3 separate regions of the Homo sapiens genome follow, and all the other regions are linked to region 3. Evidence: fine-mapped expression QTL. A gene starts in region 3. Each other region holds a variant in brackets. All regions are shown on one strand. Distances are from middle to middle. Region 1 holds the start of MGAM2 (maltase-glucoamylase 2 (putative)). Region 2 overlaps MGAM (maltase-glucoamylase). Region 3 holds the start of MGAM (maltase-glucoamylase).

Region 1 (9,705 bases), 120 kb before region 3:
TTTATATATTTTGAGATGGAGTTTCACTCTTGTTGCCCAGCTGGAGTGCAATGGCACGATCTCGCCTCACCGAAACATCTGCCTCCTGGGTTCACCCAATTCTCCTGCCTCAGCCTCCCGAGTAGCTGGGATTACAGGCATGCGTCACCATGCCCTGCTAATTTTGTATCTTTAGTAGAGACAAGGTTTCTTCATGTTGGTCAGGCTGGTCTCGAACTCCTGATCTCAGCTGATCTGCCCACCTTGGCCTCCCAAAGTGCTGGGATTACAGGCATGAGCCACAGCACCCAGCCTGCCTTACTTTATTTTAAAAAAGTATCTTATCACATCAAGGCAGCTGTTATCTTTCCATTTCCTTTTAATCTCTTAGCCCTTCCTAGCTGTTAACCCTAACTGACCTAGGCCTCAGTATTGATTATTTAACTTGCCATTGCTCTCATCTTCCTCGCTCTCTATCTGCTAACAGAATCTGCAGGATGAAACTATCCATCCAAACATCTGCCTTCTGTGCTGCCGCACGTAACTCAAGGGAGATGCCACCGAGGCTCATAATCTCCTAAATAAACTGGGCCTGCAAGCCGACTGATGGTCTTGACAGTGCCTCTCACTTTTCGCAGCAGTAATTTTATTTTTATTTTATTTTATTTTTTTGCAGACGGAGTGTCACCCTGGAGTGCAGTGGCGCAATCTCAACTCACTGCAACCTCCACCTCCCAGGTTCAAGGGATTATCCTGCCTCAGCTTCCTGAGTAGCTGGGACTACAAGTGCATGCCACTACGTGTGGCTAACTTTTTGTATTTTTAGTAGAGATAGGATTTCACCACGTTGGCCAGGCTAGTCTCGAACTCCTGACCTTAAATGATCCACTTACCTCGGCCTCCCAAAGTGCTGGGATTACAGCATGAGCCACCGTGCCTGTAATTTAAAAAATTGTTCCTTCTATCCTTCTTTTCAGGCCTGACTCTATTACCTACACTCTTATTCTCATGCAGTATCATCTCTGATATCACCCAAAAAATAATGATTTTGCAGAAACTATTCTCTCTCTCTGCTTCTCAACCCAAGCGTTTCCACAAAGGTTATTCACATCTAGGTAAATTCTTATTTTTCCCCCTCTATTCTCAATGAAACAGTTTTTCCTCTTCTTGTTTAAGCATAATCCTTGTATCTGTTATCTAGATCTCACAGCTGTTGAATTTCTCAAAAATTTCATTCCACCAATTATCTCTTATTGTCTTGCATTATCAAATTCACTCTCTGAATATCTTTCCTTCATAAATATACCCCAAGTCACCCCAAACTCTGTTAATGACTCTGTGTGCTTCTGCAGGTAGCATAATAACATTCTTTTTCTTTCCAGTGCCAATCTTCCAAAACGATAGTTCCACACTTTCTGTATTCCCTTCCTCATGTGTTATTGGCTTGGCTGTGTTTTCTGCATTCCACTGGAAATGCTCCCACCGAGGTTACTAGTGACATAGTGGCTGAATACAATGGGCGCTGTCTTAATCACTTAACCACTTTCTCCTCCATGAAACTTTCCACATATGGATTCCTTGATAGGAATCTTGGCTTTCCACCTCTATTTCTGGCTTATCTTCAATATTCTTTGTAGTCTCCTATTTCTTTCTTTCTTTCTCTCTTTCTTTCTTTCTTTCTTTCTTTCTTTCTTTCTTTCTTTCTTTCTTTCTTTCTTTCTTTCCTTCTTTCTTTCTTTCTTTTTTTGAGATGGAGTCTCGCTCTGTTGCCCTGGCTGGAGTGCAGTGGCGCGATCTCGGCTCACCGCAACCTCCGCCACCCAGGTTCAAGTGATTCTCCCGCCTCAGCCCCGCGAGTAGCTAGGACTACAGGCACCCGCCATCATGCCCAGCTAATTTTTATATTTTTGTAGAGACAGGGTTTCACCATGTTGGCCAGGTTGGTCTTGAACTCCTAACCTCAGGTGATCCGCCCGCCTTGGCCTCCCAAAATGCTAGGATTACCTGCGTGAGGCACCACGCTCAGCCCTATTTCATTAAATGTTGATGCCCCCCAAATTCTGGTATAGGCTTCTTTTTTAAACTACGCAGACACGTTGGGTAATCTCCACCACTCATGTGACTTTATATGACATGTGATGGCAATCCAACCTGTATTTCTAGCCCAGGGATTTAGATTCATATATTCAACTGCCTATTGGATGTCCCACAGATTCAATAAGATTTAACATGTTTAAACATGAAATCATCTCTCCCCACACCTCACTCCCAGTTCCTGCCAATTTGGCCAAATTATCTGTTCTTCAAATAATTAATAACTTGAGGAATAGAATCACATTATAAAAAAAAAACCTAGGAATCTTTTTTTAATTCCTCTCATTCTGTTAGTTCTCACAGCCAGTTAACAGTTCAGTCAGACTACTTTCCCGGTATCTTTGGGTCATTACCCAAGTGACCAGCACAAACAGGGTCATTTGGATCTCCTATATTCAAGCCTTTAATGGATCTCTGAATAAACCAAAAACCCTTTAGCTTTGTGATCAAAGGTCTTCATGGCACGTCCTAACCCCAGCTGCTCAGCGTCTCCTCTCCCCATATTCCCACCATACTAAACCAGCACTTATGCAGCAACAAGCTATTAAATATAAGTCAGCAGGGACAAAGACTGTTCTCTCTCTTATTTTTATGTTGATTTTGCATCTCCTCTTACTTTTCATTTCCCTGCCTCCCTGCTCTTCTCAACTCCTCCCCAATGCCACGACCATTTCTACAAATATTTTTATATAGGTATATAGCTTCAATTTTTAATTACAGTAGCCTTTAGGTTAATGTGTAATAATTCCATAAAAGAAGCACTTTAATATTGAAATAGAGGTAAGGAACTAGGACCTACAGGTAATTTGCCAACAGGCATTTAGGAAGAACCCTTAGCCCTTGGAGACACGAGGTTTGGGATTAAAATTGAGGTTTATTAACTATTCTTTACTATTTACCTAAATTAATCAGTTGTCTCTCTTTTAGTCTAAATTATTTAAAAGATATACTCTAATCCCTATAAAATATATATCATATGACTGTATTCTCATAAAATCCCTGCATTGAAGCTGATCAGACAGATATCATGATTTCCATTTTATAGATGAATATTAAGAAATTTTGTCTAGTCACGGTTAGTGGTGGAACTGAGACAAACACCGAGAGCCGCTACTTTTTAAAATAGTACTTGAATACTCTCTCGACAATGTATCCTAGGCTGCAGAGCTTAAAGACTTAGAGGATCGGTCTCCAATGGTGGAATTTCAGGTAGAGAAAGAAGTAGGAAGGACCTACCCTAAGAGTGCTATGGTATCAAACTTCGTTTCTTATACATACAGCCCACAACTCAATACCACAGCAAAGGCATTATTCATCAATTGGTCTCTTTCTGCAAGTATTATTTCTCTCCACAGGGAGACTTTTTTCTTTCTAGCTTCTAAAAATCAGCAGCAGGGACCTACTCCACAGCTCCTCAATCCTCCTGAGGGAGCAGGTTCAGCACCTTAGCTCAGGAAGTACAGGAACGCTCTGGGAATAACCCTGGGTATTTTCCTGCCTTAGGAGCTATTGTCATTCAGGCAGAGGACAGGATGGGGATTCCTAAAGGTAGAAATTCTTGCCTACTTAGAAACCCTTCCTGCCCAAAGCTGGGAGGAATTCACCTTCCTCCAAATCCATGCCATCTTGAGATAGTTTCCAGAAGGATCCCATCTGTTTCCTCTGTCCTTAATTTCTCCCAGTGAGAGAGGAGGATCTCACACCAGACCTCCCCCAACCTGTCCTCCAAACACTGACACCACACACACACACACACACACACACACACACACACACACACACACAGTCTCTCCTCTCCATCAACTATCTCATCCTCACTCCTCATATTTTATGGAAAAGGAAGAAAATATTAAGTCCAGAAGGAAAACATGGGCATCCAGATCACTTAACAGAGCAGCAGACAGAAAATCACACAAAAAGAAAGGGACCTTCCTGCCCTTGTTCAAAGCCCTGCTTGCATGGAGAAGCGTACTCACCGCATCACCTTGTTTTTTTCTATGCTGTATCTCTCCCTCAGCAATTCATAGGGAGCACTGAGCAAAGGTAACTGGGCTGAGGTAGCCAGCTTCTGCCACAATTAATTTATTGCCTTATAAAGTTGACAGCAACTGGAGGAGGGGAGTGCATATTCCAATAGGTCATAAAAGAACGCTTGTTCTCCATGTGACACAGAATGAAAGCTCCTTTTGTTAATAAAAGGGGAAGGTGGTTTTTTTTCTACTCATTGTCCCTCTTCTGTATCCCTGTTCATATCTGATTACTTGTCACGTTATGTTTCCTCATCTATACATGTAGCCTAAAGGGCTCAAGAGCTAGGGTCTTGTCTATCTTCTTCACTGTTGTATCTCCTGTGCTTAGCACTCTGCCCAATATCCATAGTTCTTTTTAAATATATAGCTATTTATTTAATAAGTAAGTGAAAGAAGGATTAGCTCTTAGTTCATCACTTTGTTCTTTTCTCCATTTTCATCCTCCAGAGTTCTCTTGGTATAACTCAGCTTTTCATTAATTCAAATGATCCTTTCCACCAATTATTCTAAATAGTGAAGTACCATTAAAGTAGCAATTATACAAACCCGTCCAGGTGCAGTGGCTCACACCTGTAATCCCAGCACGTTGGGAGGCCGAGGTGGGCGGATCACCTGAGGTCAGGAGTTTGAGACCAGCCTGGCCAACGTGGTGAAACCCCATCTGCACAGCCAGGCATGGTGGCAGGCGGCTGTAATCCCAGCTACCCAGGAGGCTGAGGCAGGAGAATCGCTTGAACTCAGGAGGTGGAGCTGGCAGTGAGTTGAGATTGCCCTATTGCACTCCAGCCTGGACAACGAGAGCAAAACTCCATCTCAAAAAAAATAAAAGAGAAAGAATGTATACAAACCTAAAGTGGGAAGATGCCTCTAGTGGACATTTGTCATGTTCTTCGATGGCTCAGCATCTTTCAAAACCTCTTGCTAAGATGGGGGAGGTGGGGAGGGAGACAAAGGTAGTAACACTACCTATTGGGTACTATACTCACTACCTAGGTGACAGGTTCAATCACACCCCAAACCTCAGCATCACACAATATACCCTTGAAATGAACCTGTATATGCACCCTGAATCTTAGACCCTGAATCTAAAATAAAAGTTGAAAAAAATTTAAAAACGGAGGATCTTTCTTTAAAAAGAAAAAGAAAACCTCTTACTTAAATCAACTTAAGGACTTTTTCTCCAAATTCTGCCTCCCCAAAGAAACAGCTAGAAATTCTCTTTCACAGCCTTTCTTTCATCCAAGGTAGAGGCAAGTGGCTGGAGCTTTGTGAATGAGATATTCCTGTGAGTGACTTACATCCAGAAGAAGGTGTAGATAAGGAGGTACCATGTAAAATCCAGGATGTTGGAAGCATAGCTCGTTTCAGAGGCAGCAGGGACAAGAGACCTAGTGGCATCCTATGCTCAGTATTTGGGGTTGCGAGCTGCCAGATATGTGCTCAGGGCAGTGGCAGTAGAAACCGCTACAGGGTAACCTGGGGCTTGTCCCTAGCCACATGGCCTACAAACCTGACTCTCTAGTCCTACCGGAGTTTCAATGAGTCACCAATATCTTTTTAAAATTTTTCTTAAGCCAGCTAAAGTGGATTTTTAAATTGACATATAATTTCCAAACCATAAGATTCACTCTTTTAAAGTATACAATTCAGTGTTTTTAAAAATATATTTACAAAATTCTGAAACTATCACCACTATCTAATTCCAGAACATTTTTGCCACCCCCAAAAATAATTAGTGGTCACTCCCCATTCCCATCTCCCCCTGTTTCTGCAGCCACTAACCTACTTTCTGTCCTTATGGATTTGCCTATTGTGAACATTTCATATAAATGCAGTAATACAATATGTGGCCATCTGTGTCTGGCTTCTTTTACTTGGCATGATATTTTCAAAGTTCATCCACACCATTTCAGGTATCAGTGTCTGTTCCTTTCCATGTCTGGATAGTATCCACTGC[G/A]TGGATAGACCACATTTTGTTTAGGCATGTATCAGCTGATATACATCTAGGTTGTTGATACTTTTTGCCTGTTATGAACGATGCTGCTATGAGCTGACACGTTTTAAAATTCTGCCTGGAATATACCTAGGAGTGGAATCATGGGTCATGTGACAAGTCTTTAACTTTTTGAAGAACTGCAAAACTGCTTTCTAATGTGGCAGCACCATTTTACACCCCCATTCCTGCCAGTAATATATGAGGGTACAGAGAGCTCTTTTGGTGGCACCTAAGAACTGTAAATAACAGTGTTCACAGTAGTGAATCTTTTGTGTTTGCTTCAAATGCTCAGTATGTGGAAAAGCACACATACACACACACACGGAGAGAGAGAGAGAAAGTGAGAGAGAGAGAGGGAGGGACAGAGAGAGAGAGAGAGAAAGAGAGACTCGGTTTCTGCATTTATGAACTGCTGGAATGACATATTCAGCTTTTCATTTGCCCCAGTACAAGGTGGCCTTTGTTAGAGGGGAAATGTACCAAGATCTCATTTCAAATTGGGAAGACATCCTGGCAAAAGGTCAAGAAGGGAGATTTTATTGTTACATAAGATCTATTTTTTGTGTGATATTTTACCTTTAACTCCCCACATGCCATGCACATTTGTGACTTCATTTATGTTAATAGTGGTAACCAACAGGCCCAGCTAATCTATAACCTGTTTCCTAAAGTGCAGAAAATAGCTACCTTCACCTTCCATTCTTGCTAACTAGTAACTGGAAGATATTGAATCACCATACTGGTGTTGACCAATGAGAAAATAACAGAGCCACTTTGAAGGGTAGAGACAGGCACGTGACCCGACATCTTCCAGTTGTCTATCGGTAACAAGGCACGGCAAAGTTAGCTATTGGCGGAACTCAAACAGTTGTCACAGCAAGCTGCTGGTTGGAATCATCAGATCAGAAACTAGTAATATGAGTCACCCTTAACTTCCAGAACACCTTTCTCCAAGGCCAGATGCAAAACTCTCAGTGACTCTGCCGCTATGACAAGAACAAAGAAATATTGATGAGATCTTGAAGACATCTGCCACGGCCAACATAACCTTATCTTTGCAGGTATATATGACATTTAATGTTATAACATTAATAAGAAAGGAATAGATGTCTTCCTATTTAAGTGAAAGAGTTTGAGAGTGTTTTTTTTTTTATTTTGGCACACCTATGAAGAAAGCAAAATTATGTGATCTAAAAAACAGAGCATATGTGGAAAAGGAAGGCCCCCAGCCTCTTCCTGAATAGCTGGCCAGGAGTTGTAAGCATAGGTCCATGTTGTAGGGGCTGCTCTGGGATGGCCACAAATGGATATGGTTCCATGAGAGGTGGTTCTCAGACTGTGATCTGAGGAACAACCTCTGGGGGTATTATTGAGCGAAAGGGCTCACTCTTCGATGCGCTAGAAGCCAATACTCTGATAAAGGGTTTCGAAGAAAAGCTTTTATTGCAAAGTCGACTCACAGGACACAGGAGTCCAGCTCAAACCTGTCTTCCTGTGCTGGCTTTAAGGAAGTATTTTTATCAGAAAAGACTTAGGGGGTGGATTCTGGGATTAGCAGGTGATTGGTAAAAGAAAGAGGAAATCTAGAAAGTCCTCAGGCATGCACAGTTATCTCTTCATGCCTCATCATGGGTCTCATGTGCAAATTTGGGAGGGAGTTAGTAAGAACCTGTGGTGGAAATTCAGGCTGTGACGTCAGCAAGCTCTTTCTGCGTTAACTCCGGTAAGCCATATTGGTTCCAACAGATAATCTCTTTTTCACACATTTCTGGCTGAAATTTAGCATTTTGTTAGGTTATGAATGTAGACAACAAAACACAGTAGTTTTCATAGCACATGAGTTTGTCAATAATGCAATCACAGATCTTTCCATATTACATTATGAAATTGTAGTGGATATCTCAAAATATTGTTGATGTTGATCATTACATTGAAATTATAGCATTGTTACTTCCACTGTTGGATCTTTTCATTTAATTTGATAATGAAAAAAACACATCTCATGGGTTACTATATCATCTTTAATATTTGGATAAGTGTATCGTAATATGATAAGTTTTCTTTGAAATAGCATGCATTTTGCTTGATGCATTTAAAAACAATGTTGTGAGGAAGAATTCCGTAGGTTTCACTAGGCTGTCAGTGGGGTCCCTGACACTTCGTGTGCTCCAAAACCCCACTGGCCTCACTAGGGCCTTAGCCATCAGAATTATATAGTCAGAATGCCTCTCCTTAAGCATTCTGTGGCAGCCAGAGCCAAATTCCACCAACATATCCTTGATGGTAACATTAAATATTTTTTAAATATCAAGTAAATAACGTTTTCATCTTTGTGGCCTTCCTGAGTTTGTTAGAGGAAAGCTGACAAGTTTCCCACCTTTTTGATCAAAGGATTCCCATGGCTGCTTTTCCATATTTCACCAGTTTCCTAGTTAGCTCAGGCCCTCATCCAAATGCCCCGTATTGTGATAATTAGATGATTTAACAATATTGTTTGTCTCTAGCCTTATGCAGGTGCTGACACATGAGTGTGCAGGGAGAATGAATGGCTTCCTGGTTATAAGAAAAGAAGAAAACACAGAGAAGTAGGTTCATTCATTCCACACACATTCATTTTCAACTCATTTTCAGGTAACATCAAAAGTTAATATTCCTGTTGAACATTAATATATAATTTCCTTATCTCACATTTTAACCCTATAGAATTTTAAGCAAGAAGGTTGCAACTCCTATTTTTACTGGAGTTGGTATTTTCCTAAATATAGCAACTGCTATGATGATTAAAATAGTAATCAATAGACCCTTCCACAAACCCACATCTTATAAAAGACTCCTTGCAGAGATGTAAGAAAAAGGATAATTATAAAGGTTATCATCCTATTGGTGGATTTGGCTGTAGGTTCTGTGATGCCGAAGAGAACCAGAAAGACAAATTCATAAGAGTTTGCTAAACAAGAACCTTAACCCCAAACAGAGATTACTCATGGTCAAAATAGCACAAAATTCAAAATCACTTGCAAATTCACTTGTTTTATTTTTATCTGGCATATAAATTGCATATTTTTATGTGAAATGTGGTTGTATACATTAGAAATAAGATTTACACATTTCAAAGCACACTACTGCAAAAATAAATTATTTTTAACCTCCAAACTCTCTTTTGAGCTTTGCCTGCTCAGATCTCAATCTCACCAGTAGCCCTTTATGCTAAGGATTTCTCAAGACCCTCTTCTTCAAGTGAGTTGACTCTTCCTTTTTCCTCCCCATGAGGCTGCTGACAATTTTACATTATGTTCTTACTTAGGATCACTTTTACTATCATCTTCTGTTTCATCTGATCTTTCCTTGTGTTTGCCTTTTCTTTGCTTATCATGCTCCCCCCACCTATAACCAATTAGGTATATTATTCCTCCCACCGCCTATAACCAACTAGCAGATGTTCTTTCTGGATACTTTCTTGAGATGCTGATTAGCTTCAAGACCTGGAACTGTCACAGAAAGCTTTCTCTTGTGTATTTAACAAAAGAATGGGGTCCATTCTATGATTACAAACGTGGACATACACACACTTCATCATGGACCCAGTTCATCTTCAGTAAATGTCAT
Region 2 (5,000 bases), 61 kb before region 3:
TATATTACTGTGCTGGGGTGAGGCTAACTGTGATATTGTCTGAAAAAGAACTTTATGTCTTTATGGAATCCAACAAACATTAGACAAATGAACCCAGACACAGAGGCACCTGGGTTAGTTTTGAAACTCCAGAGCCATGACTGAGAACGTACATAAGGGATCTGGGCAGCCACCATCTCATCATACAAGCTGGCGATCTCAGAGTCATTCTGGTAGCCATAGCGACACAGCTGGAACCCCAAAGACCAGTAAGGTACCATCACAGGCCGGCCAATCAACTAGAAAATAGACAGAAAATATTAGTCTTCAGAACAGAGGCACCACATTGAAGTTTTACATCAAGTAATAAGAATATTTTTCTGTGCCCCAAGCTAGACAACTAACTAATTGAAATCCAGACCAAAACTGACAGGATATAGAGCCACTAGGATACTTAGAGAAAGCTTTCTGCTAGACTTGAGCTCCTTCTTAAAAATTATGGAAAATCTGATGTTACGCTATTCCTAGAGACACTGTAGATAACTGGTTAAGAAACCCAGAATCAGAGACATATGCCTGGCTTAGTATACAGGCTCCAATCCTGCTAGCTGTGTGACCTTGGGCAAAAATTAAGTAATCTCTTAGTGCTTCAGTTTCTTCATCTGTAAATAACGGATAATAATAGCATCTGCCTGATAGTGTTTCTGTGATGCATGAATGAGTTAATATGTGTGAAATGCTCTAACATGCAGCAAGTGATAAATCAGTGATGCGCACTTGGTAGTATGTAAGTGTCTGTTGTTGCTGCCACGACCACCATGGTCATCATCACCATCATCACCACCACCATCATCACTATTTTCACCATCACCCCCAGTACCACGATCGTGCCCCCACCACCATTACCATTATCATTACCCTTCACTACCGTCACCACCACCCCCCACTACCACCCCCACCACCACCCCAACCACCATCCCCACCATCACCACTATCACCACAACCACTATCACCAACATCACACTCCTCACACCACCTCACTGTCACCACCACTACCACCACCACCATAACCAACACCACCATCATCATCACCATCACTACCACAAACACCATCGTCAGCCCCACCCTTGTCACCATCACCACCACTATCACCGTCATCATCACCAACACACCCATTACCACCACCCCCACCACTATCATCACCATCACCAACACCACTACTACCACCACCATCATTATCACCATTCCCACATCACTATCACCACCGTCAGCCCCTACTGCCATCATCACCATATAACCACAAATAACACCAACATCACACTACTATCACTACCAGCACCACCACTAGTACCACTATAACTTCTGCTATTCTGCAATGCTTACAGAGGCTATAAATTTAATGATAATTAGAATGTATTTATTTTTTCTCATTCTATAATCTCTCTCCAAGAAAGACCAATATTTCCAGTTGTCAACTGAGAGTTATACTAATCAATGTGGACTCTGGCACCCAGAATGTGCTGTGTAAGTACTTGATAAACAATTGGATTTCCCCCTACCTCAGTGTACTGCTGGGTGACAAGCTCTGGAGTCGGCCCCAAGAACACATAAAAGTCCAGAACTCCCCCTGTGGTGCGGTATGTCAAGGCAGGCAGGGGCTGGAACGTCACATCTGAAAATAAAGAAAAATGCCAAGCCTCACGGACACCTTCCATGTCACGAATCACCCCTGAAATCCACACATTCTCCATCTTCCTGCACCCTCCCTATCATAGAGTAGTAACAGCAGGCATTTTCTATCATACTCACAGAACTGAAGAAGATCAATGGAAGTCTACAGGTCCCATTCCTGGGTTTGATTCTCTTTAGGGTACTTTACTATATTTTATCATTCTACTCTTATAAAATTATTATTTTTTACATTTCAAGTTTTATGTTAGATAAAGAGATACCTGTTCAGGTTCCTTACATGGGAATATTGCATGATGCTGAGGTTTAGGGTATGGATCCCTCACCCGGACAGTGAGCAGAGTACCCGATAGGTAATTTTCCAACATACCATACACCCTCAATACCCCCAGACTAACTTCTCTGACCCATAGTTTTACCCTAATTCAAATTATATAACTGGCTCTCACGAGCTGCCCTCCAGGATATTTGGGACCCATGTGGTGTTACTATCCCTTCTTATGTGATTTTTACCAAAATGAGAGTTGGGTTAAATCTTCTTATTACATGATATTAGATTGAAATAAACAGAAAGGCTAAACACAAAGAAAAAATAAACAGCAGTGCCCGTAAAATGAAGATTTTGCCTTCAAGGAACAGTTAGGCTAAACACATTGTAAATTGACTCAGGCATGATTGGTATCCCCCCAAAATAAGGGAGGTGCTGATGGCCTTACCCATGGCATTGCTGTTCAGCAGGAGCACTCCATGGGCACTGCCGTCCTCCTCCAGCCCCATGTAGTAGGGGTGGACACCATAGGAATTCTTCTTGTACTGGGGAGTCATGGGAAGAAGCAGTAGGAGTTTAAAAGACATTATGCCTGAGAAAGAAACTCAACAAAAATGTGCTTGCTAACATGGCTCTAGTTTTCTCCATGAAACTAGACACATAAACTAAACACATGAAACAAAGGAGCCTGAGAATTGGCCCACTTGCCTAAAAGCAGAATGTGATGACCAAGTGGAGTTTGGGAAGATGAAGCCCAAAGCCTGAGCAGTGTGGGTGGAGAGAAGCAGAGACACAGATCCCAAATGCTCTGTCCTTACCCCTGGGGGCTGGTCTCGGGAGAACATCCCCCAAGTGTGCCACTCCAAGTCTCTCCTATAGGACCTGTGCTCAGTTTCCCCAAAGCCATAGAGGTACTTGGAGGGAAGGCGGGTGGAGATGCGGATAAACATGTCACTGAAGGTAAAGCCAAGGAGCTGAGAGTCCCA[A/G]CTGAAACACAAAAACGCAGATTTGAAACAGAAAATGAGCTTTTATCTCTGTTTCCAGCAGGTGACTTTTCAAGGACAACAGAACACTTGATTCCTACCAAGAAGCTGTTCATATCCCAAACAAAACTGAAACTCAATTTGATTAAAATATCACAGATATCCTCGCTAAAAGCCCAGGAGTTATTCATCATTCTTCCGTTTCCCTCTGTCACTGCCTCCTTTCAGTGGTCCTCCACAATACAAATCCAAGCACCCCTCATCATCACAGCTGGGACCACTCCACACCAGCACTGCCTTCCATCCTTGCACCCCTCAGTCCATTTTCTACATAGCACTCAAAGTGATATTTACTTATTATTTGTTGTCATGAGAAGAGAAACCTCAGCTGTGTATAAGGAGCAGCACCTAATCTAGAGAAGGCACCCCATAAACATTTGTTGGATGAATCCTCAGGCACATTCAACTCCTTCAGTATTTATTTCCAGAATGCTAAAGATTTCCTGTAAGAATAGGTCTGAAGGAAACAACTCATCCATGGATCTGGAAGTGGACAATGTGATGTTTTGAACCAGGATACATCCAAGGACAATGGACCTGGCAGCGAAGGCGCAGGTAGCCATCAACTCTGAGTCACACTAGAAGCCACTCACATTATAGTGCCTGTACTCTTCCGGCGAATTTCAATCCCAAATGGATTCTTCTTAATGAGCACATCATAGAGTTGACCCTCAGGGGTGCTGGATGGCATGCTGGGTATGTTCAGAGGGACTGGAACTTCATACCGATTCTTGTTGGGATCATAAATCTAGGCCAGAGGAAATCAATTTTAGGCAACAATACTACTCTTGAAACCTATACCCTTAGCAGAACCTTTTTGATTTTTGGACACAAAGTTCAGATGCTATGTTTCTATCTTCTTTATGATATCTGAGATTTAATTAATATATCAGATAACAATGTCACATTTAACATTTTTCTGTGATTTCTCATTATTAAGGCCTCTATTACCTTAATAAACTCAATGGGACATTGCTGCTGACTTGGAAAATCATTCTGGAATCAGTGTGGTATTTATGAATATGTTACTTGTTATTTTCTGTGGGTATATGAGTATATATAAATAACTTAAAATCATTATGAGTTCAAAAAAAAACCTGTCTCCCCAAAATGAAATCTATTTGATTAAAATAATCAGAATGTCCTTGCTGAAAGTGGTATCTAAACTGATTCATGAGTACCTACTACATCCCCTGCCTGACACTGCACAAGACACTAGGGACGTGAGCTCAATAAGGCAGTGTTATGGTTTTACGAAATTCACATGCGAATAAGAAGTCAAAGAGAGCAGCTCACAACACGTGGGTGATGTGTGCTAAGGGAGAGCTATGTAGAAGTGCTGTGAGATTCTAGGGAAGGAAATGCCTAACATTGTTTCTGGGAGACTGAGACGGTCTCACGGGAGAAATACAGTCTAGAATATTAAAAGCTTGGTAGTCATTAACCAAACAAAGAAAGGAGATCAAGTCATTCTGGTGAAGAATAACAACCACGAAGGCAGAGAGAATTAAAGTGGGCCAGAAAGAGGCACATATTTTGGAAAGAGTTACTCTACGGTCAAGAGGTAGAGTAGGCAATGGTTAAGGCTAGAACTCCAGGGAAGTTCATTCACTTCAAACCCATTAGGTGCCTAAAACATGCTAGTGTTACAAGGAGGGTACAAACATACAAGAGATTCTTCCCTGCATTAGAGGATGAACAAGAACTCAGAATTCGGGTTGATGTCAGATTGTAAAGAACCTTTCAGGCAATGTGACAATGTCCTGACCACTTTCACTTACTCTGTCAATAACATTACAGCACTATCGGCCAGGCTCTGTAGATTTCAGAAGCACAAACAGGAAAGGGCACATTCCTGTCCTTGAGAAGCTTAGTTTAATAGAAAAATAGACATCACAGCTAGTCCATCCCTAGTCCTTAAATGCAATTAAATTCTGGAAAGAAATGAAATTACTGCATATTGATGGCCATTTTACAGAAATCTCAAATTCAGCATCCCAAACTGAACATATCATCTTACA
Region 3 (11,514 bases):
TTATGTTCACTGATAAGAAGAGGAGTTAGAATGTCTATCCAAGTGACCATGCCTCCTCTTTGGTAGATGCTAATAGTTGTAAGATGTGAGATTGCTTTTTATAAAAATATTTAATTTTTTTCCAAGTGTTTATTAACACACTATGTTAGACACTATGAAGAAACACCCACCGACTGCTGGTCAAACTATAAACACCCTATGCTCAATGAAGACTTGGTAAAAACTATTAAAATTACTCATGCCCATTACCCAGCAATTGCATTTATAGAAATTCATCCCTTAAATACACTTACACACTTGGGAATCAATGTATATACAAATAAAGGTTTTTCATCACAGTATTACACGTAATAGCAAAAAAGTGTAAATATCCATAGAGACAGCAATCAGTAAATACGTGAAGTAAAATATAATTCAATGTTATTTAAAATCATCACACGGCAGGTGTTTTTAATTTAACAAATTATTTGATACTCCTCTCTTCAAGAGGTAGGGCGAGTCCCCACCACCTCACCCTCTGAGGATGAGCTGGACTTAGTGACTCACTTTCAACAGATAGGATGTGGAGAAGGGATGGCATCTAACTTCCAAGACTAGGCATTACAGCTTCCTCCTTGCTCTTTCTCTTGGATCATTTCCTGAAGAAACCAGTTACCATGCCATCATAACATTCAAGCAGGACTATGGAAATTTCTAGCAAAGAACTGAGGTCTTCTGCTAAGAGCCATCTGAGTGAGGTCCCTTGAAAGCAAGCCTCTACCCCTATTCAAGCCTTCACATGACTACAGTCCTGGCTGACATATTGGCTGGATTCATGAGAGACCCTAAATCAGCACCACTCGGCTAACTCACCCCCATATTTCTGACCTACATAAATTGGGAGATAATAAATGTTTGTTGTTTTAAACTACAAAATTGTAAGGTAATTTGTTACCCTGCAATAGATAACCAATATGCATAGGTAAATATGACTTTTTAATAAAATATCATTAGCATATTTTTAAAAACATGTTTGCTGTTTATTAATAGTCCTTTTGCTCCATATTTTCAAATATGGTTACTTGCTCTATGGAACAATAATATCTATTTTCTAGCTATACAAGAGAAAGATTTCCTTAAACCTTAAAAAAAACTCCAGCATTATCTGATTGACCTTACTTCCTGCATTATAGAACTCTTGATGGTGAAGCTTCCTATCTCAATTAGAAATGCAATTGAAGAAAAACTAAGATCAGGAAAAATGGCAAGACGCAAATAAAAAAGGAAATAATTTAAATAGGGTTAAGGGCTTTTAAAAATGTTTTTTAAAAAACTGCTACTTGGCAATCTGTCCTTAATCTTTGACTATTTTTTTATAGGACAAATATATAACTATGCAATTTTAATGCTAATGATAATAATGGTTAACAGTGATTGAGCAGATATCCTAAGAGGTTTCCATAATTTGTCACATGCCATTTTTATAACGACTGCAAGTTAATCATGGCTACTATCCTCACTTTCAGATGAAAAAACTAAGCTTCAGAAACGTCAAATAAACTGCCTGATGTCATCATACAGCTGATAAGGAGCAAAGCCACAATTTGAACACCTGCCCTTTGGACTCCACAGCCATGGCTTTTAACCATCACTCTGTATTCTATGCTATAATGCCCCACAGTGTACACCAGCTTGGGCTTTCTGTGAGATTATAGTTTTATCAAATAAAAACACATTAAGTTTATGGCCCATAGCACGTTTTAAATTATCTGGGAGACCTAGAAGAAGCTACTGATGTGCCTCATTTGCCAAGATCATTCATCATTATCTAAACTACATCTCTGGAAGAAAGAAATCTGCTTGCAGTTTATTTATTCATTCATGAATTATTTATTAAGTTCCTACAATGTGCCAAGCATTCTTTCAAAAACTGACTACACAACAATGAACAAAACAGATAAAAATCCCTGCCGTCATGAGACTTATGTTCCCATGAATAGAAAAAAGAGACAATAAACAAAATAAATAAATATACACTGGGTTATACTGTGTAAGTATATGGAGAAAAAGTGGGGGGTAAATGAGGAATGTTGGGGTAAGGGTGGCAATTTTAATTAGGTTGGTCAGAAAATAATCTTACTGAAATATAAGAATTATTACTATATACATATGAACGCTTTTACACTGTTGGGAGTGTAAATTAGTTCAAGCATTGTGGAAGACAGCGTGGCAATTCCTTAAGGATCTAGAACTAGAAATACCATTTGACCCAGCAATCCCATTACAGGGTATGTACCCGAAGGATTATAAATCATTCTACTATAAAGACACACGCACACGTATGTTTACTGCAGCACTATTTACAATAGCAAAGACTTGGAACCAACCCAAATGCCCATCAATGATAGACTGAATAAACAAAATGTGGCACATATACACCATGAAATACTATGCAGTCATAAAAAAGGATGAGTTCATGTCCTTTGCAGGGACATGGATGAAACTGGAAGCCATCATTCTCAGCAAACTAACACAGGAACAGAAAACCAAACACTACATGTTTTCACTCATAAGTGGAAGTTGAACAATGAGAACACATGGACATGGGGAGGGGAACATCACACATTAGGGCCTGTCAGGGGATGGCGGGCTAGGGGAGGGAGAGAATTATGACAAATACCTAATGCATGTGGGGCTTAAAACCTAGATGATGGGTTGACAGGTGCAGCAAACCACCATGGCGCATGTATACCCATGTAACGAACCTGCACATTCTGCACATGTATTCCAGAACTTAAAGTAAAATTTAAAAAAAGAATTATTACTATATATACATTACGCAAAAGCAATAGAATTTTTTTCTTCTTGAATTATTTAGTATATGAATAATTGTCAAAGCTCATTGTCCTGGTACCATTATAGTTCTTTAGGCAAAGTAGACAAACCACATGGGGGCCCAAATTATTAAAATGGCTATCTAAATTAATTTGGAAAAACTGGATATTTGTCCTCTTTCCGGCATTATAGCCAGCGTTTGATGTGTATATGGAGGTCTAAGCCATTCTTTTAAAATCCTTTGCTAACACAAGACATGAGATCTAGTGGAAAAGAGGATTCATTGTGGATAGATAGACTAAGAACAACTTGCAAAGAGGACCCCAGTGAGCCATAGCTATTCATCAAAAATGCTGGGCGATATTAGTAGGTTGGGCCATCCTTTCCCAGCTGCTTGGTGAATGGGAAGGGATAAGGTAGCTAATGAATGGCTTTTTTCTTCCAAGTCTGGTCACACCCAAGGTGAGAGATTTAAGAGTCAGCTCTGACCCTAGCCAGCTGTATGACCTTGGAAAAATCCACTTAACCCCTCTGGGTCTCAGTTTCCCCATCTGAACTGCAAAAGGATCATCTCTAGGAGACAGCTAACTCCTCCTTGAGCCCAGCAACAGGGTGTGCAAAGGCTTATATTTCTCATCACATTCCACAGCTGCCACCTGAACAAATTTTAAATGGAAAATTTCTTTTCTAGTTCCATTCCATGCTTATAGAACAATTTTTATAGTAATTTTATTAGCTCATTAAAATGTATTTGTGAGGGAATGCCTGATAATAAAAAATAATCATTGGCATCTTGTGAGAGTGTGACTGAAATAGCAACAAGCTGTCTTAAATTTAGTGTCCCACTTCATTTGGTCCCTGGTAGCACAGGGACCTACCAGCACAACAAACCAAAGACCCCCTCCATCTCACCCCCTCTTTGCACACCTACAGACATACACTTACTGTCCCACACCAGGACACAGACTGTAGACAGTTTGGACATTGGGAGGTCTTCCTCGCCCAGCAAAGCCACTGATCAGATCCTGCATGAAGAACCTAGTGGTATCCTTTTTCAGGGAGACCCATGGGGATTAGTCTCAATTTCTCTCTCTTTCCCCAAGAGTAACTCTCCCTTCCCACCTCTGTAACCAGTCAGAAAAGAAATGCCTGCGTGTGTCTAGCTAGACTGGCAACTAGTAAGGATCCAACTTTTTTTAAGTTTTATTTTAAGTTTTATTTTAAGTTTATTTTAAGTATTTTATTTTAAGTTTTTAAGTTTAAGGGCCAACAACAATTTATCACCTTCTCCTCTTCCCACGAGCACTCCCATTCTACTCCACACATGACTGCCAGGACAGATACCCTACCTTTCTCTTTATGACCTCCTCCCACATTCCACAGGAAACCTCTCCTACCCACCAATGCACACCAACTCATAAATGCATCCCAATATTTTACACACATCCTCAGACTATCCCCTAAAATTATTCTGTATTTAATCAACAGAGGCACCAAACCCATAAGCATAGTGATATATTTCTCAATTTTCTGATTATAATTGGTTCTTCAGTTACATTTTCTCAATCACAACTCCAAATCCTTTCAGAGGGAAAATGCTCTAATCTCACTCCCAAATTCTAACTCCTTTTATTCATTTCTCTCACTTCATTTCCAGAATCTGAAAGAATTTCTGCCTGCTACCTCAACCTAAGTATTAAATAATTCATCACACCTCACACAGAAACACACACAAACACACAGGTTTCACTACAATCAGGCTTATAGATCCAGCCTTAGTTCAGAAAAATATACACACACTAAGAAAAAAAGATAAATGAGAATTTTGTTCCATGTGTATGCATGTGCATAATTTTTGATTTATTATTGGTGTTGTTTATCTTTGTGTTTAACAAATTAACAAGGGCTTTTTTTTTTTTTTTGAGACGGAGTATCGCTCTACGACCCAGGCTGGAGTGCAGTGGCGTGATCTCGGCTCACTGCAAGCTCTACCTCCCAGGTTCACGCCATTCTCCTGCCTTAGCCTCTCCGAGTAGCTGGGACTACAGGCGCCCGCCACCATGCCCGGCTAATTTTTTGTATTTTTTTAGTAGAGATGGGGTTTCACCATGGTCTCGATCTCCTGATCTCGTGATCCACCCGCCTCGGCCTCCCAAAGTGCTGGGATTACAAGTGTGAGCCACTGCACCCGGCCAACAAGGGCATTTTGACTAAAAGAGATCAACTCAAATTCACACACACTTGTAGACACACATCTGTAACCGTAAAAGAATACAAGGTTCACAAACATACCTCATTACCTCTTGCAGCCGCTCCCTCTCTGTCTGAAGGATGGCTTAGCAATAAAAGCAGAGGAGCACAGTCCACCAAAGCAACCAAAGATCTGGTAACTATTTACCGACCTATCAAGAAAATGTTAATGGCTTTCAAATGCAAATGAATGGCCAGCTTTTATTTCCAGGATCAGAATTTTTAGTTAATTAGTAATCGTGGTCTTGCTCTAAGAAGGACATCCTTAAGACTTTTGGAAGGAAAAGCCAGCTCCCATGACCCACTCCATCCCCTCCAGGCACTGAATGTTTAATCGGTGGTGAGGACACCCTGTATGTCTGGTAAGAGAACACAGACACAATTTGTAGATGATAAAGAGCAAAAAATAAATGACCCCAGTATTCCAAAAGAGCCCTGGTCTCTTGCACTGACTCCGAATCTCTCAGGAACTCACTGACGTTTAGTAGCACAATCTGATGATTGTGATGGAAGGAAGTTGTTTTAAAAATGTTTTAAAAATAGTTTTCTTCTTTCTTCTTTAAGGTGTCCTTAAGCTTGTTTGCAGTATGGAAATCCTTTAACAGTCTGGTGACTCTTGAACTGCCTTTGCAGAACTATAAATAAGAGAAATCTAACAAGACTGACTCCATCTTGCTTCTAACCTCCCAGGCTAAATTATGTTTTCTAGGGGATTTTTTTTTTTTTTGGTTGGCTTTTTGCTTATTCTAGTACAAAGGCCAAGAAACCTATGAGAGGGATTTAGTTTATAGTTAAACTTGGAGTCAAGGGAAAATGATCCCCCTCCTTGCCTGGAGCTTAAAGGCGCATTCATAAGGCAAGGTTGGAATTATGGTAGGGGCTTAGACTTTGCTAAAGAATAGGCATAAACAATGTCCTGCCATGGCTTAGTTTGTTTTTCTATAAGTTGCTTACTGCCCCAGTCACACAACCAGTGTCACAAAATTCATAACTTCCCCAACTACCAAAGATAACATCACTGTATTGGTCTGTTTTCACACTTCTATAAAGACATGCCTGAGACTGGGTAATTTATAAAGAAAAGAGGTTTCGTTGACTCAGTTCCGCAAGGGTGGGAAGGCCTCAGGAAACAATCATGGTGGAAGGGGAAGCAGGGACTTCTTAACATGGCGGCAGGCCAGAGAGAGTGAGCAAGAGCAGGGAAAACTGCTTTGCAAAACCATCAGATCTCATGAGAACTCACCCACTATCATGAGAACAGCATAGGGGGATCCGCCCCCATGATCCAATCACATCCCACCTGGTCCCTCCCTTGACACATGGGGATTATGGGGATTACAATTCAAGATAAGATTTGGGTTCTGACACAAAGCCTAACCATATCAATCACTATTGTGAAACCTAAATAACTGGTCTTTTAGATATTTGTTAGCATTTCAGTAGACCAACAGACACCACCTAGTCTTGAGGCCAACACACACACCCCTCCTGGGAACTGACTCAGTTGCACAAAGACAGTTTTAGGTGCTCCTGTGATTTCATTCCCTGCCAATCAATTATACAAGTTCCCCAGCCCCATGCCCACCAAAGTACCCTTTACAAACCTTAGCCTTTGAATCCTGAGGGAGAGGGGATTGAGAAGTTTTTGCCTGCTCTTGTTTGGCCAACACTGTGATTATTCAACTCTTTATTTACTGCAATGCCTGCTGTTCTCATTGATCTTTTTGGAGGGCAGTGGGCAAGAAGAACTTATGGAGCTGAGACATGCTTATAAACCCCTCTTAGAATTAATTCTTAGGCCAGGTGCAGTGGCTCACGCCTGTAATCCCAGCACTTTGGGAGGCTGAGGTGGACAGATCACCTGAGGCCAGGAGTTCAAGACCAGCCTGGCCAACATGGTGAAACCGCGTCTCTACTAAAAGTACGAAAATTAGCCGGGCATGGCGGTGCGTGCCTGTAATCCCAGCTACTCATGAGGCTGCGGCAAGAGAATCACTTGAACCCAGGAGGCGGAGGTTGTAGTGAGCTGAGATACAAAGAAAATCAATTACATTGAAACACAGTTACTATAATATTTTTTAAATTATAGTTTGTGCCTCTTTAATGACATACTAACAATAAAGCGATATGTCTAATAGCGATTGCAATTTCAAAAACATGATAAGCGTAAACAATATCTTGAGATTGTTTTAAATATATGATGTGAAAGTAACTGTGACCTCTCTTGAAACCAAATTCATAGGTACTACTAACACCACTGTAGTTTGCAGCCTAACTCTAAATTTCAATTAGAATTTAGCAAAGAAAAGATATGTAAATATTTTCCCCCTCCAAGTTCACAGGCTTTCAGAATTATATCTACAAACCCCAGGTTAAGAACTTTGCTCTGTTACTAAGTGGACCTTCCTCCAAGTGGGGCAGAGTTCCCCGCTCTGTGATACTCCAAGAGTTATCTGTGAACCTGTGGTTGCCAGCTTCCAGAAAAATAAGCACAGAAATTGAAGGTAAGTGTTGAGAGACTTGCATTACAATTTGACAGAATCATTTCATGTCATTGATCTTGATAATTAAAAAATGGAGCTTGTATCTGTATATGCTTTTTTAAAATTTATTTTTCAAGTAATTTAGTTTTAATTTTACAAAAGCCACAGTCTGTGATATATTGGACAATTTTAAAACAATTGCTGTTTTACCACACATAGTTTAAAAAGTCCTGCTCAGCTACTGCTATTTCTAGGCATTTGTCTTTATGGGCTAGTGAAAATTCAGAAAAAAATCTGGGCCAAGAGACCTAAATTTATAAACCATGTATATCATCTGGAAAATACAAACAAAAATCACTATCTCTTATCACAGTCGTTTCACAGTAGACATAGACAGATAATCAAAATTGAATCAATTTATCTCTTTGAAAGTTTACTTCCTTATCCTTACTTTTCTGATTTCATGAACCATCAGTGAACAACAACCACCGTGGTAACACTGACTTACCGTGTTTCTTTGGCATCATAGAATCAAAGAATTTACAGCTAAAAGAGGAAAGAAAGGAAAACTGGCATGCATGGAGGCTGGCCGAGTGCCAAGACCTTGGGTCTGAAGCAGTGGCTCATACATGTAATCCTAGCACTTTGGGAGGCCAAGACGAGAAGATCACTTGAGCCCAGGAGTTCAAGGCCAGCCTGGGCAACATAAGGAGAACATGTCTCTACAAAAAATAAAAAAAATCAGCTGAGTGTGGTGGTCCACACCTGTAGTCCCAGCTACTTGGGAAGCTGAAGTGGGAGTATCACCTGAGCCTGGGGGTCAAGGCTGCAGTGAGCTATGATCATGTCACTGCAGCCCAGCTTGGGTAACAGAGTGAGAGCCTGCCTCAATAAAAATAAATAAATAAAAACAAGACCTTCACCTACATGATCTCACTGATGTTCACAATGGCCCCAAGGCAGCAAATGTCTAAACTGCCACCCAAATGCACATCCATCAAGCTCCTAAGACATGTGACTTGAGTTGTTTGGTATCGCCCTTAAAGAACTTTAAAAATCACTAAGCATAGCCTCCTTATTTTACAGAAGAGGAAATTGAGACCCAGGAATAGGAGGTTTGTGTGGGTGGTGACTCAGAGTTCCAGATCCGAACAGGGCAGGCCTGAATTGCAAAGCCCAGGTCTGCTTATTAACTGGGGGAGCTTAAGCAACTAAGTCTCTGATTCTGTAACTTAAATGAAGATTAAAATACTACCTATCAATAAATTTATAAACTAGACAAAATAATGTGAGTAAAAGACTTGATGTTACTTAGTAAATACTCAGTAAGTGTCAGTTACAATTAATATGATCAGTTTGCATCTGCCACAGTTGTGACAAGAGCTCAGACCCTGAATCCCCAATCCAAGGCCCATTCAAATATGCCAATCTCTCATTCGACCCCAAATCAGAATTCCGAACATAGCAGGCAGTCATTCATGTTTACAAAGGAAAAATTATTGAACACCTACCCTGCACAACATCTATGATGTTGCCTGACTGTAGCAGTTTAAAGGCTTAGCTCCAAGTCCCTGGATTTAAAAACATGGTTCAGGCCAGACCAAGGTATAATCATTGTGGTGCCTGGAGTGGCTTGCTGTCTGGTGACATGGCCTTATCTAGGCTTGGAGATATTAGAAAAGCATGTCTACTTGGGAGCCTCGAAGACTATGCAAACGTGAGGATTGGAATGTGATTAAAATATCTCCTTTTCTCGGCCAGGTGTGGTGGCTCACGCCTGTAATCCCAACACTTTGGGAGGCTGAGGCAGGCGGATCATGAGGTCAGGAGTTTGAGATCAGCCTGACCAACATAGTGAAACCCCGTCTCTACTAAAAATACAAAAATTAGCTGGGCATGGTAGCGCGTGCCTATAATCCCAGCTACTCAGGAGGCTGAGGCAGGAGAATTGCTTGAACCTGGGAGGCGGAGGGTGCAGTGAGCCGAGATTGTGCCATTGTACTACTCCAGCCTGGGCAACAGAGTGAGATTCTGTCTCAAAAAAAAAAAAAAATCCTTTTCTCCATCCCCAGCCACCACCCTTACCCTAACCATTGTGACCCCACCTCTGGATCAAGCATTAGCCCTGGGGCTGCCTCCTCACTTCCGGCCACAGAAAATATAGCAATAACCACTTCCTCCACACAATTCCATCAATATACAGTCATTATGTGTGTACTACAAACAAGGCACTATGAGAATAACAGTAACAACATCTACAGAGTGCGTACTGTGGCCTATGTTCTATGCTAAATGATTTCCATGCATTATTTCACTTCCTCCTGGTAACTACGCTATGCAGTCGGTACTGTTATTATCCCAGTTTTACAGATGAGAAACCTGAGGCACAAAGGCGACTTGCCCCAGGTCATGTAACTAATGAGAGGCAAACCCAGAATGCAAAGCCAGGCAGTCTGGTCAAGCCTGCACTGAAATATAGATGAGCGTGATTCCTCCATGACCTCATAGCAGAGAGAAGTCAAATGGCTACGATGCTAAAGAGAAGACAGCACCAGCAAATGCTACTGGACAGAGAATACACATGCTGGGAGGGACAGGAAAGAAATCAAAGCCATAGCTGGGTGGAAGTGGGAAGGGAAGGCGAAAAGGAAAGATATTTTGGGCGAAGGGAGCAGCATTAGCCAGACCCACAGGTAAGAAATAACAGAACCGGTGCAGCGCACCAGCATGGCACATGTATACATATGTAACTAACCTGCACATTGTGCACATGTACCCTAAAACTTAAAGTATAATAATAAAAAAATAAAAAATAAAAAAACATAAAAAAAAAGAAATAACAGAACCTGTTTTAGAAACTGCAGTAAAAAGACACAGAGAAGACAGTTGTGAGACAATCAGGGACACTTCTGGGAAAGTACACTGGAGCCACAATGCAGAGATTCTAGCATCTCATCTCAGCAAGAAGATTTTGCAAGCAATAGGGAACCACTGCAGGTAAGAAACTGCCCAGAGCTGTCATAAGCACGAGATAGATTTCTACACAGATTCAAAACACTGGATTATCTGCTTCTTTCAGTTTTTAGTCCAGAAGAATATTACTTCTCCCCACACCTCCAAGCAGACTAAGTATCCACAGGGGACTCTGGAAGCTGCACAGGTGCATGTTCTTTGGAGTGAAGTTGTGTAGATATGAGGAGGGAATGAAATAATGCATGTGAATCATTTGGCATGATACATAGGCCATAGTAAGCATTCTATGTGTGTTGTAATTGTCGTTCTGACATTTCCCCTTTCCCAAGCCACTGGGGTAATAGTGCATTCAAGAATATATTGCTCTGTTTTATAGGTGTGCATTCCCCAAAGTGCTCAGAGGAGTGCTAGCCACTCCTTAAGATGCTGCCCACAGAGCCTCCTCAAACTCTCTGTCAAAGCCAGACCCACATGAAGAGCCCATTCTGAATGCTGAGCCCAGAAGTGACAGATGAGGCCCAGTGTGCATCCTTCCTCCTCCTACATGGAACATGACTTCATGTGTTCTCCCTTCCTGGAATAAAATCCTTGTAGAAAATAATAATTTTATCTGTGTGGATTTTACCAGTAATTAACTATGGGTGGATTAGGTGTCCCTAAAATATCCCTTTAGTATGAAATTGTCAAACATAGTATTTCATTCAAGATAAATCTTTTTTTGGAGAGTATTTTCATGTTAAATTTTCAGATGATTTCAACTGAAAATCTGGGGAATTTTCCATAAAAATTGAGGAATTTTGGAAAATTTGGAGAATGCACTTTAGGGATTCTCAGCCTCCATACAGCAGCAAGAGGATCACTTGAGCCCAGGAGTTTGAGGCTGCAGGGAGCTATGATAGCACCACTGCACTCCATCCTGGGCAACACAGCAAGACCCTGTCTCTAATAATCGAAAAAAAAAAAAAGAAAGAAGAACATGGAGTTTCAAATCAAA

Evidence for each region. PIP is the estimated chance that this variant, and not a neighbour inherited with it, causes the effect.
Region 1: its variant is fine-mapped to the expression of MGAM in whole blood (TOPMed, PIP above 0.99).
Region 2: its variant is fine-mapped to the expression of MGAM in whole blood (INTERVAL, PIP 0.98).

Annotation. Positions count from the first base shown.
Region 1 is chr7:142,106,152-142,115,856 of GRCh38, reverse strand. It overlaps MGAM2 (maltase-glucoamylase 2 (putative)), which reads right to left and starts at 4,139. Exons shown (of 48, transcript NM_001293626.2): 1 at 4,050-4,139. It overlaps MGAM (maltase-glucoamylase), which reads right to left. Exons shown (of 71, transcript NM_001365693.1): 71 at 9,110-9,705. The variant G/A (reference allele first, on the strand shown) is at 6,061.
Region 2 is chr7:142,053,481-142,058,480 of GRCh38, reverse strand. It overlaps MGAM (maltase-glucoamylase), which reads right to left. Exons shown (of 71, transcript NM_001365693.1): 27 at 3,573-3,727; 28 at 2,755-2,923; 29 at 2,385-2,481; 30 at 1,539-1,651; 31 at 153-278. Among named protein-coding and RNA genes, the nearest start is that of MGAM2, 56 kb to the left of the region's middle. The variant A/G (reference allele first, on the strand shown) is at 2,923.
Region 3 is chr7:141,989,523-142,001,036 of GRCh38, reverse strand. MGAM (maltase-glucoamylase) reads right to left here and starts at 5,158. Exons shown (of 71, transcript NM_001365693.1): 1 at 5,107-5,158. RefSeq lists an enhancer at 4,959-5,460.